Homo sapiens: one gene and its partner. The protein of the gene in region 1 purifies or fractionates together with the protein of each later gene. This does not show direct contact. Each region holds a gene or a part of one and is shown on either strand. Other genes may lie near its edges.

The links.
Region 2: the proteins of TIMELESS (region 1) and MCM3 purify together in Homo sapiens (affinity purification with mass spectrometry; 3 studies listed by BioGRID and IntAct, with this or other methods). This does not show direct contact.

What each region holds. Positions count from the first base shown.
Region 1 is NC_000012.12:56,425,369-56,432,658, reverse strand, and holds part of TIMELESS (protein timeless homolog), read left to right. Parts: intron 1-134; coding exon 135-290; intron 291-1,054; coding exon 1,055-1,188; intron 1,189-1,690; coding exon 1,691-1,778; intron 1,779-2,377; coding exon 2,378-2,554; intron 2,555-3,558; coding exon 3,559-3,776; intron 3,777-4,006; coding exon 4,007-4,110; intron 4,111-4,253; coding exon 4,254-4,423; intron 4,424-7,290. UniProt on the Homo sapiens protein: Plays an important role in the control of DNA replication, maintenance of replication fork stability, maintenance of genome stability throughout normal DNA replication, DNA repair and in the regulation of the circadian clock.
Region 2 is NC_000006.12:52,263,515-52,268,032, reverse strand, and holds the end of MCM3 (DNA replication licensing factor MCM3), read left to right. Parts: intron 1-26; exon of another isoform or gene 27-64; coding exon 65-168; intron 169-1,336; coding exon 1,337-1,422; intron 1,423-1,888; coding exon 1,889-1,958; intron 1,959-2,624; exon of another isoform or gene 2,625-2,647; coding exon of another isoform or gene 2,648-2,798; intron 2,799-3,246; coding exon 3,247-3,445; 3' UTR 3,446-4,018; downstream 4,019-4,518. UniProt on the Homo sapiens protein: Acts as a component of the MCM2-7 complex (MCM complex) which is the replicative helicase essential for 'once per cell cycle' DNA replication initiation and elongation in eukaryotic cells.

The DNA of each region.
Region 1 (7,290 bases):
TGCCCTTTTTGGGCTATTCTGTCCTCTGACAAGTCTGGGAGAGGAGGCTTGGTCAAAGAATGAGTTGGAGAGCTTCAAGGCAGGGCAGTGGGATTGAATGAGCTTCCTTTCTACCCTCACCACTCACTGCTCAGAAGATTGATGATGACGCCAGTGCCCATGACCAGCTCCTCTGGGCGATTCACCTCAGCGGCCTGGATGACCTGCTCCTCTTTCTGGCCAGCTCGTCTGCTGAGGAGCAATGGAGCCTACATGTGCTAGAGATTGTCTCCCTTATGTTTCGTGACCAGGTGAGACCCTGGCCTATTGCCCGAGTCCCCTCCGCCCATGTACTTTTCTGCTGTACAGCCAGAATTGCTCTTGTGATAATGGCTGCATTATCTGGGGAAGGCAGGCGACAGCAGGAGTAGCCATGTCTTGAGTTCAGTAGTACCCCCTTATTCATGGTTTTCTTTCCTTGATTTCAGTTACTCACAGTCAACCATGGTCTGAAAATATTAAGTGGAAAATTTCAGAAATAAACATTTTAGAAGTTTTAAACTTGTACATTGTTCTGAGTAGTGTGATGAAATCTTTTGTCCCTGTTTGTCCTAAACAAGATGTGAATCATCCCTCTGCCCAGCATATCCACAGTGTATACCCGCCTGTTAGTCATGTACTAGCCATCTTAGTTATCAAATTGAAAAAACATAATAGAATATGTGTATGTGCGTATATATATATGTATACATGTTCTGTTTTCTGATAACTATATATATAGCACATATATACATTCTATAAAACATAGAACGTACATGTTCTATGTATATGTGTATACACATACAAATATATATATGTATATATGAATATATACATATATATATTTCAGTACTGTCTGCAGTTTCAGGCATCCAGTGGGTGTCTTAGAACATTTCCCCCTCAGATAAGGGAGAACGACAGCACAATGCCCCATTAATGGGGTTCTATTTTGTTCACTCTTTGCATCCCCAGTAGGCGTGAACTCAGGATAAGGAATGACTGTCCTCCTGATTCTTCCCTCTTTGTTCCAATCTAGAACCCCGAGCAGCTGGCGGGAGTAGGGCAGGGACGCTTAGCTCAGGAGCGGAGTGCAGATTTTGCAGAACTGGAGGTGTTGCGCCAGCGAGAGATGGCAGAAAAGAAGACTCGAGCCCTCCAGCGAGGCAACAGGTGAGTGACAGAGAGGCAGGTTCTTTTTCCTACATCATGGAATGCTGAGGGCATAGAAGGCAAATTCTAAGGTGGGGTGATTGAACAACATTTTAGTGTTTTTTTTTTTTTTTTTTGAGACAGAATTTTGCTCTTGTCGCCCAGGCTGGAGTGCACTGGCACGATCTCTGCTCACTGCAACCTCTGTCTCCTGGGTTCAAGCGATTCTCCTGCCTCAGCCTCCCCAGTAGCTGGGACTACAGGCGCATGCCACCATGCCAGGCTAATTTTTGTATTTTTAGTAGAGACAGGGTTTCACCATGTTGGCCAGGCTGGTCTCAAACTCCCGACCTCAGGTGATCCGCCTGCCTCAGCCTCCCAAAGTGCTGGGATTATAGGCGTGAGCCACCGTGCCCGACCAACATTTTGTAGTTTTAACTTGCTCCAATGTGCCGATGATAGAGAATGGAGATAAAGTTTCCAGAGAACTGAAAAATCACCTTGGACCTTTTTGTTTCTGCAGGCATTCTCGATTTGGGGGCTCCTATATTGTCCAGGGGTTGAAATCCATTGGGGAGAGGGACCTCATCTTTCACAAAGGCCTTCACAACGTGAGTATTCTTACATCTGGAGTGGGAACATAGTGGAGTTGCATAGCTTAAGCAGGGTAATCATCTTAAGAGTTCTTGGCTGTGCCTGGTGGCTCACACTTGTGGTCCCAGCACTTTGGGAGGCTGAGGCAGGAGGATTGCTTGAGCCCAGAAGTTCAAGATCAGACTGGGCAACATGGCAAGACCCTGTCTCTAAAAAAAAAATTAAATTAAAGGTTGGGTACAATGGCTCATGCCTGTAATCTTAACACTTTGAGAAGCTAAGGAAGGAGAATTGCTTGAGCCCAGGAGTTCGAGACCAGCCTGGGCAACATGGCAAAACCCTGTCCCTACAACAAGTGAAAAATACTAACTGAGCATGGTGGCACCCGCCTGTGGTCCTGACTACTCGGGAGGCTGAGGTGGGAGGATTCCTTGAGCCCAGGAGTTCAAGGCTCCAGTGTGCTATGATTGCATCATTACACTCCAGCCTGGGTGACAGAGCAAGTTCTTGTCTCAAAAGAAAAACAAAAATTAGTTTCTTCTGAGAAAATTGACGAGAGCTGCAAGGGGAAAGTGGTATTTAGGAGTAATTCTAATCCCCCAACCGACACACCCAGCTACGAAACTACAGTTCAGATTTGGGAAAGCAGCCGAAAAAGGTGCCTAAACGTCGCCAGGCCGCCCGAGAGCTGTCCATTCAGCGCCGTTCTGCCCTCAATGTGAGGCTCTTCCTCAGAGACTTCTGCTCTGAGTTCCTGGAGAACTGTTACAACCGGCTCATGGGATCAGTAAAGGTGAGAACCTGTGAAGGATATGGAGATAATCAGGAATGGAATAGACAGGTGATGATGCAGCTGTTGGTGGGTAAGAAGTGGGGAGGAGCTCGGGGAGGCTGCCCCTGGAATGTGGACTCGTAGGTGGGAAGGATATACAGTTAGGATGTCCCTGAGAGATAGTGAAAATGCCAGGAACGAGTGGGCTCCTGGCATGACAAAAGAGGCTCTGGAAAAATTGCCTCAGAGGGAGAGGAAAGGGAGAACAGGAGAGAGTTGGAAATTGTGGATCCTAGAGTATTATAGCGGTGTCCCGGCGTGGTGGCTCACACCTGTAATCCCAGCGCTTTGAGAGGCTGAGGCAGTGGATCACTTGAGGTCAGGAGTTCAAGACCAACCTGGCCAATATGGTGAAACCGTATCTCTACTAAAAAAAAAAATACAAAAAAAAAAAAAAATTAGCCGGCATGGTGGTGTGCATTTGTAGTCCCAGTTACTCAGGAGCCTGAGGCAGGATAATCACTTGAACCTGGGAGGCAGAGGTTGCAGTGAGCCGAGATCAGACCAGTGCACTCCAGCCTCATCATGACAGTGCAAGACTGTCAAAAAAAAAAAAAAAAAAAAAAAAGACCAGGCGCAGTGGCTCACGCCTGTAATACCAGCACTTTGGGAGTCCAAGGCAGGTGGATCACCTGAGGTCAGGAGTTTGAGACCAGCCTGCAACATGGTGAAACCCCATCTCTACTGAAAATACAAAAAATTAACTGGGCGTGGTGGCGGGCACCTATAATCCCAGCTACCCAGGAGGCTGAGGCAGGAGAATCGCTTGAACCCAGGAGGTGGAAGTTGCGGTGAGCCGAGATCATGCCATTGCACTCCAGCCTGGGCAATAGAGTGAGACTCCGCCTCAAAAAAAAAAAAATTATGACGGTGTCCAGCATCCATTCCATCATCATAGGACAGGAAGGAAGAAGTTGGAAGCCCTGGAGTCATGGTGATCTTTTTTTTTCTTTTTTAAATGTCAGGATCACCTGCTTCGGGAGAAAGCTCAGCAGCATGATGAGACCTATTATATGTGGGCCTTGGCTTTCTTCATGGCCTTCAACCGAGCTGCCTCCTTCCGGCCAGGCCTGGTTTCTGAGACCCTCAGTGTCCGTACCTTCCACTTCATTGAGCAGAACCTCACCAACTACTATGAGATGATGCTGACTGACCGCAAGGAAGCTGCCTCCTGGGCACGCCGGTGAGTGGGATGGTTACTGGAGATACAGTGAGCTAGGGATCTGAATGCTTGAATTCTGGCTGGTGCTTTTTTCCTGATTCAGGGTTCAGGTGATCAGTCTGGGGAGCAAGGACTGGCTGGGAAATTTAGTTTGGGTGGCACATTTTTTTTTTTCGCTGTGGGAAGTTGCTGTTTCCATGGGCCATTGCCCTAAGCTGTCCTCCATTTCACCGTTTCCCGTCAACTCTCAGGATGCACTTGGCTCTGAAGGCCTATCAGGAGCTGCTGGCAACAGTGAATGAGATGGACATATCTCCAGATGAGGCTGTGAGGGAGAGCAGCCGCATCATCAAGAGTGAGGCCCTGGCCTGGTCCCCGATCCCAGCCTGTCCCATCTCGTGATGAGAATCTCATTCTTCCCAGTCCCAGCTTCATCCATCTCTCCTTTTCAAGCTTTCCAGAATAGCCCTTCCATCCCTTTCTCTTCCCCATTCCTAGACAATATTTTCTATGTGATGGAGTACCGAGAACTATTCCTGGCACTTTTTCGAAAGTTTGATGAGAGATGCCAGCCCCGCTCTTTCCTTCGTGACCTGGTGGAGACCACCCACCTCTTCCTCAAAATGTTGGAGCGATTCTGTCGGAGCCGTGGGAACCTGGTGGTGCAGGTACTGGGCAGCCCCACAATGTAGAAAGAGCTGTAAGGGAGAGTCAAGGAAGGGGGGCTCTTTCTTCTCACAGTTTGTACAGCTTAAGTTCATCTGTTAAACGTGCTCTGAACTACGACAGCAAGAGGTTTGTGGGTGTTGGCCAGTGTGAGTCTACTACAGTTTCCTTCTCCCATTAGAATAATCTCTGATCTGCCATAAATATTTTAGTTCAGTCAGGAAACATTTATTGAACACCTACCACATGCCAAGTACAAAAACCCTGGGGATTCATAATTTTAGAGTCTAATAATTATGCTATAGCATTTTCTGGTTATACCTTGAAAGCATTGTGGTGAGGTGGAAAGAGCCTTAAATTGCGGCCAGGCATGGTGGCGCACACCTGTAATCCCCGCGCTTGAGGAGGCCAAGGTGGGCAGATTACTTGAGGTCAGGGGTTCAAGACCAGCCTGGCCAACATGGTGAAACCCCGTCTCTACTAAAAATACAAAAATTAGCCAGGCGTGTTGATGCACACCTGTAATCCCAGCTACTCAGAAGGCTGAGACAGAATCGCTTGAATCCAGGAGGTGGAGATTGCAGTGAGCCAAGATCATGTCACTGCACTCCAGACTGGGTGACACAGTGAGACTCTGTCTCAACAGCAACACAAAGAGAGCCTTAAATTGAACTTTAGAAAGTCTGGAATCTAGTCCTGTATTGGTTATTATTGGAATAAGCTCAAGCTGGTCGTGTCGGTCTCCAGATCCATAAAGTTGGGATTGTGACAGTTGTCCATGAACCCAAAGTGGAATCAGTGAAAAGCCTAGGACAGGCTGGGCACAGTGGCTCATGCCTGTAATCCCAGCACTTTGGGAGGCCACAGTGGGTGGATCATTTGAGGCCAGGAGTTTGAGACCAGCCTGGGCAACATGACAAAACTCCTTCTCTACTAAAAATACAAAAATTAGCTGGGTGTGATGGCACGCACCTGTAGTCCCAGCTATTTGGGAAGCTGAGGCACGAGAATTGCTTGAACCCATGAGGCAGAGGTTGCAGTAGGCCAAGATCATGCCACTGCACTCCAGTCTGGGCCACAGAGCAAGACTCTGTCTCAACAAAAAACAAAAACAATTCACCAGCATGGTGGCACATACCTGTAGTCCCAGCTGCTCAGGAGGCTGAAGCACGAGGATCACTGGAACTTAGGAGTTTGAGGATGCAGTGAGCTGTGATTGAGACATTGCACTCCAGTCTGGGTGAGACCAAGACCCTATCTCTGAAAAATAAAATTATTGGTTCACATTAAAATAAAAAAAACCCTGGGACAAAATGCAAACTCCAAGGAATTTGTATCCTGGAAACACAGAGACTTTGCTTTGTATAAACAGATTTTGGGCCAGGCGCGGTGGCTCATGCCTGTAATCCCAGCACTTTGGGAGGCTGAGGCGGGCAGATCACTTGAGGTCAGGAGTTCACGACCAGCCTGGCCAACATGGTGAAACCCTGTCTCTACTAAAAATACAAAAATTAGCCAGGCATGGTCATGCGCACCTGTAATCCCAGCTTCTTGGGAGGCTGAAGTGGGAGAATCACTTGAACCCGGGAGGCGGAGGTTGCAGTGAGCCAAGATCATGCCATTGCACTCCAGCCTGGGCAACAGAGCAAGACTCCGTCTCAAAAAACAAACAAACAAACAAAAATTAGCCTGGCGTGGTGGCACACACCTGTAATCCCAGGTACTTGGGAGGCTGAGGCAGGAGAATCGCTTGAACCCAGGTGGCAGAGGTTGCAGTGAGCCGAGATCACGCCATTGCACTCCAGCCTGGGCAACAAGAGTGAAATTCTGTCTTAAAAAAAAAAAAAAAAAAGATTTTGTACCAGAACCTTCCTATAACTCTAGTTGCTACAGCTTAAAATTCTGTCATAACTGGACTTGAAAGATGCAGTAGTACCAACGAGACTTTGCTAAAGGGTATTTTTGCACTCAGAGCTCTGTGGTATTATCTGTAATACTAGGTACTATCATTTATTGAGCATTTACTGTGTGTCAGACACTGTGCTGACGTTTTCATGTAATCCTCACAGTAGCGCATGTGCCCAAAGTGGTTAAGCAACTTGTCCAAAGTCTTGTTAGTAATACTAATTCAATACTCAAATCCAGATCTGCTGGACTCCATGCTCCTAAGTTTTGGTGTGTTTGATTGTAAGTTCTTTAATGGAGCATGACCTTCAGGGGCCTCTCAGTTCATCCTGTTTGACTTTTCAGTACCCACACCAAAGACTGGTTCACAGCCCTGACTTGGGAGAAGCAGGATTTGGGTATTGACTCACTCTCCTGCTTTTCTTTTTTTTAATTATTTATTTATTTATTTATTTTTTTAAGCAGGGTCTCGCTCTGTTACCTAAGCTGGAGTGCAGTGGCTGAATCTCAGCTCACTGCAACCTCTCCTTCCCGTGCCCAAGCGATTCTTCTGCCTCGGCCTCCCAAGTAGCTGGGACTACAGGTACACACCACCATGCCTGGCTAATTTTTGTATTTTTTGTAGACACAGGGTCTCGCTGTGTTGCCCAGGCTGGTCTTGAACTCCTGACCTCAAGCGATCCACCTGCCTAGGCTTCCCAAAGTGTTGGGACTACAGGTGTGAGCCACTGCGCCTGGCTGTCCTACTTTTCAGGAGAAAAAATTAGAGGCTTTATTTACATAGTGCTTTGCATTTTATGAAGCTTTTCCATGTGTCTTATTTGATCCTCATAGCATCTGCTTATTCTGTAGACCTCTTGAGATAGCACTGCTTTTGGCAAACCTCTGAACTCAGGAAATGGGTCAGGAGTTTTGCCATGACATCTTATGCTCACTCACATTATAGCTTTTATCCACACTCTAG
Region 2 (4,518 bases), on another chromosome or scaffold:
TTCTTGATGCAGTTCCCCTGCATCAGTGACCCCTCTAGCCCAGCCACACTTGCCTTGGTCTTAGGTTCTGGAGAAGGAGAAGAAACGTAAGAAGCGAAGTGAGGATGAATCAGAGACAGAAGATGAAGAGGAGAAAAGCCAAGAGGACCAGGAGCAGAAGAGGAAGAGGTAAGGTGGGGCAAGCAAATGAGATTAAAAAGTTAGTGGCCAAGAAGTTGGGGGTGCACGCCTGTAATCTTAGCAATTTGGGAGGCCGAGGCGGGTGGGTCACTTGAGTCCAGGAGTTTGAGACCAGCCTGGGAAATATGGCAAAACTGTCTCTACAAAAAATAGAAAAATTAGCTGGGCGTGGTGGCGGACACTTGTGGTCCCAGCTGCTCGGTAGGCTGGGGTCGGAGGATTGCTTGAGCCTGGGAGGCAGAGGTTGCAGTGAACCAGGATCGTGCCACTGCACTCCAGCCTGGGCGACAGAGAGAGATCCCATCTCAAAAAAAAAAAAAAAAAGTAGTAAGTTCCAGTGGGACTGGGGAGAGAAGTAGAGGGTAGAAGGTGGAACCAGCGCTGCTTATTGATGTCAGGTTGTTCATGGAGAGTGTTCCTAGACCTGCGGGGTTTGAGGATGAAGATAACCTGGGTAGGCTGGGCGCGGTGGCTCACGCCTGTAATCCCAGCACTTTGGGAGGCCGAGGCAGGCGGATCACGAGGTCAGGAGATCAAGACCATCCTGGCTAACAGTGAAACCCTGTCTCTACTAAAAATACAAAAAATTAGGCTGGCGTGGTGGCAGGCACCTGTAGTCCCAGCTACTTGGGAGGCTGAGGCAGGAGAATGGCGTGAACCCAGGAGGCAGAGCTTGCAGTGAGTGGAGATCACACCACTGCACTCCAGCCTGGGTGACAGAGTGAGACTCCGTCCGTCTCAAAAAAAAAAAAAAAAGAAGATACCCTGGGTAAAAGAGAAGGAGAGCGAGTCCTTCTTGTGTGCTTTTGACCCCTCTACTGAAGAAATGCTAAATAGTAGGAACAGCAACCCAACCACTGAGGGTTTTGAATATATACTTCAAAATTCTAAGGGAAAAACCTTCATGCTTATAGTTGAATTTATAAGGGTGAGTGATGTGGAAAAGAGCGTTGGGAAGCAGCGCCTGTTTGTGTTCTAGTCTGGGGACTTGGTCTCGTTTGGAACAAGCAGCAGTTTGCAAAGGCCTAAGCCTAGTGCTTCACTTTGACTTAGTGGTTCTGTTTCCTTTTCTCCGTAGTTAGAGGCACGTGATGGGGCTTCCTTGCCTTTCTGTCTCCAAACTCTTTCTCTCTCTTAACTGCTGTGGGTATTTTAGAAGGAAGACTCGCCAGCCAGATGCCAAAGATGGGGATTCATACGACCCCTATGACTTCAGTGACACAGAGGAGGAAATGCCTCAAGGTGAGTGAGCCCACTTACTGATGAAAGAGGTTGTTCCTGTGACTCTTGGACTTTTCCAGTTGCTCTGTGCACTTTATTTTCTTGTGGACTCCTGTTTGTTTGGCTCCCTGCTTGGGGCCTATGTCCAAGAGGTTTGTCCCAAGAGAGCTTCAGGGGAAACTTTGGAAAAAGCTTTGCTATATTATATACACCTCCTTGATGAACTGTGCTGTGCTGTTTCACCTGGTATAAGCATTTCAGATAATATATACATTGAGGGTCTCCTGCCTGACTAAATTCCTTCATCATCCAATGAAGATTTCCCTATATCCTAATTGTTCTGCCTGGCCCCATAAGAACCCTAGGAAATAGGAGTGTTCAGCAGGCTGAGTGAGAGATTGGGAGTGGAGATGATTTCTCTAGTGTTTGTGGAAATGGCTTCACCTTGCTTATCTTCCCCATCTCTACAACCATCAACCCTCTGAAGTACACACTCCAAAGACGGCAGACTCACAGGAGACCAAGGAATCCCAGAAAGTGGAGTTGAGTGAATCCAGGTGAGTACGGATGTTGCTCCTGCCCCTTCAAGAATTCTGTGTATCGCTGAGGAAGGGACTTTGTTCCCTTGGAGAGGGTGGGAAACAAACTGCTGGTCATCAATAGAACTCAAAACTAGAGGCCTGCAGCTTTTAACATTTTATATTCTCATTTAATTTCAAACTTACTGAAAAGTTATGAGAAAAGCATGAAGAACTTCTGGATGTCCTTTACCCAGAATCTTCAGTTGTTTAAATTAATAATTCTCTCTTTCTGAGAGAGAAGAGTTTTACAATAAGGATAAAACTTAATGTCTTACTGTAACCTCAGATTCTTCTTGGTGGGATAGATACATTTTGGCCATTTGTTTTTGAAATGAAGAATTTTTACCACCAGGGTTTTAGGAAACATTTTTATCTATGAATTTTGTTTACTGGACACCAAGAAACTCCATAGCCAAGTTTTACGTTTTTTCTTTTTATACTTTAAACACATAATACAGTGTATTTACTGAAAAAAATTTGAAACACATTGAAAAGTATTTAGAAAAAAAATTAAAATCAATTGTAACTCTATCCCTCAAGGACAACCATCAACTGTATCTTAAAATGCTTGAATCAGCTCGTATAGATCTCACTTTTTTTTTTGAGACCGGAGTGCAGTGTTTATTTTTTACTTTTTTACAGTGTTTATTTTTTACTTTTTGTAGAGACGGGATCTCACCATGTTGCCCAGGCTGGTCTTGGACTCCTGGCCTCAAGCAGTCCTTCTACCTGAGCCTCCCAAAAGGCTGGGATTACAGGCATAAGCCACTGTGCTTGTTTGATCTCATTCTTTTTAATGACTGCAGGGTTTCCATGGTATGGATGGGTAAAAATTTAATGAAATTCTCTGATGATAGACATTTGGGTTGTTCCCTGTTTACAGTAAAACAGTATTAAATTTATCAGTGTGCACTCATGCAAGTATAGCTATAAGGTGAGTTCCTAGAAATGGGCTCCCTGGGCCAAAGGATATACGCTTTTAAGGGTTTAGTAAGTGCTGTTAAATTGTCCCGCATTGACGCTGACCGGGTTACTATTTTACAGTGAATGGGAATGCCAATTTCCCACACGCTAGTACAATAGTTTAGCTTTAAAGGGGGCTCCTCAAGGGTAGCACTGCCATCAGAGGCAGATGTGTGTGTGAGAAAGAATATTGAGGGGACGCCTCTACTGTATTAATACTATGGATTTTCCTAGTATAGCTGTTTCCTGAGAGCATTTGGGTTTGTTTACTCCTCTTCCCCCTTTCTTCTGTCTGGGGCAGGTTGAAGGCATTCAAGGTGGCCCTCTTGGATGTGTTCCGGGAAGCTCATGCGCAGTCAATCGGCATGAATCGCCTCACAGAATCCATCAACCGGGACAGCGAAGAGCCCTTCTCTTCAGTTGAGATCCAGGCTGCTCTGAGCAAGATGCAGGATGACAATCAGGTCATGGTGTCTGAGGGCATCATCTTCCTCATCTGAGGAGGCCTCGTCTCTGAACTTGGGTTGTGCCGAGAGAGTTTGTTCTGTGTTTCCCACCCTCTCCCTGACCCAAGTCTTTGCCTCTACTCCCTTAACAGTGTTGAATTCAACTGAAGGCGAGGAATGTTGGTGATGAAGCTGAGTTCAGGACTCGGTGGACCCTTTGGGAATGGGTCATGAAAGCTGCCATGGGGTGAGGAAAGAGGAGACAGTGGGAGAGGACAATGACTATTGCATCTTCATTGCAAAAGCACTGGCTCATCCGCCCTACTTCCCATCCCACACAAACCCAATTGTAAATAACATATGACTTCTGAGTACTTTTGGGGGCACAACTGTTTTCTGTTTGCTGTTTTTTTGTTTTGTTTTTTTTCTCCAGAGCACTTTGGTCTAGACTAGGCTTTGGGTGGTTCCAATTGGTGGAGAGAAGCTCTGAGGCACGTCATGCAGGTCAAGAAAGCTTTCTTTGCAGTAGCACCAGTTAAGGTGAATATGTATTGTATCACAAAACAAACCCAATATCCAGATGAATATCCGAGATGTTGAATAAACTTAGCCATTTCGTACACATGGTCTTAATAGTCATAGTGTGTTTTTTATACATAACATTGAATTGTTTTCCTTGAGAGCAATCGTGCAGGGTTTGCTGCTCCCGCATTTGCAGCAAACTACCACAAGGTGGCAGCAGCCTGCTGTGATCTCTGGGGGTCATGTCTTCTCTAGAGGCAGTTTTCTTCTTCAGCAGCACCAGCGTTTATCAGTCAAAATTGATAGTATAGACCAAACCCTGCCAATTTAAAATAGCTAAATGGCCACGGGAGGCTAGTGAGTAAAAGTTCAGGAGAAGAATTGCCCCTCTGCCTGGCGCTTTTTGCCTGAATCTAAACTTATCCTTCATAAAGATAGAATACCCGATACGTCAGACACCTCAAAATCCTGGGAGTTCTTGCCCATAATGAGATCTTGTTACAGTATCTTTTTTTTTTTTTTTTTTTTTTTTTTTGAGACAGGGTCTCGCTTTGTGCCCAGACTAGAGTGCAGTGGTACAATCACAGCTGATGACAGCCTTGACC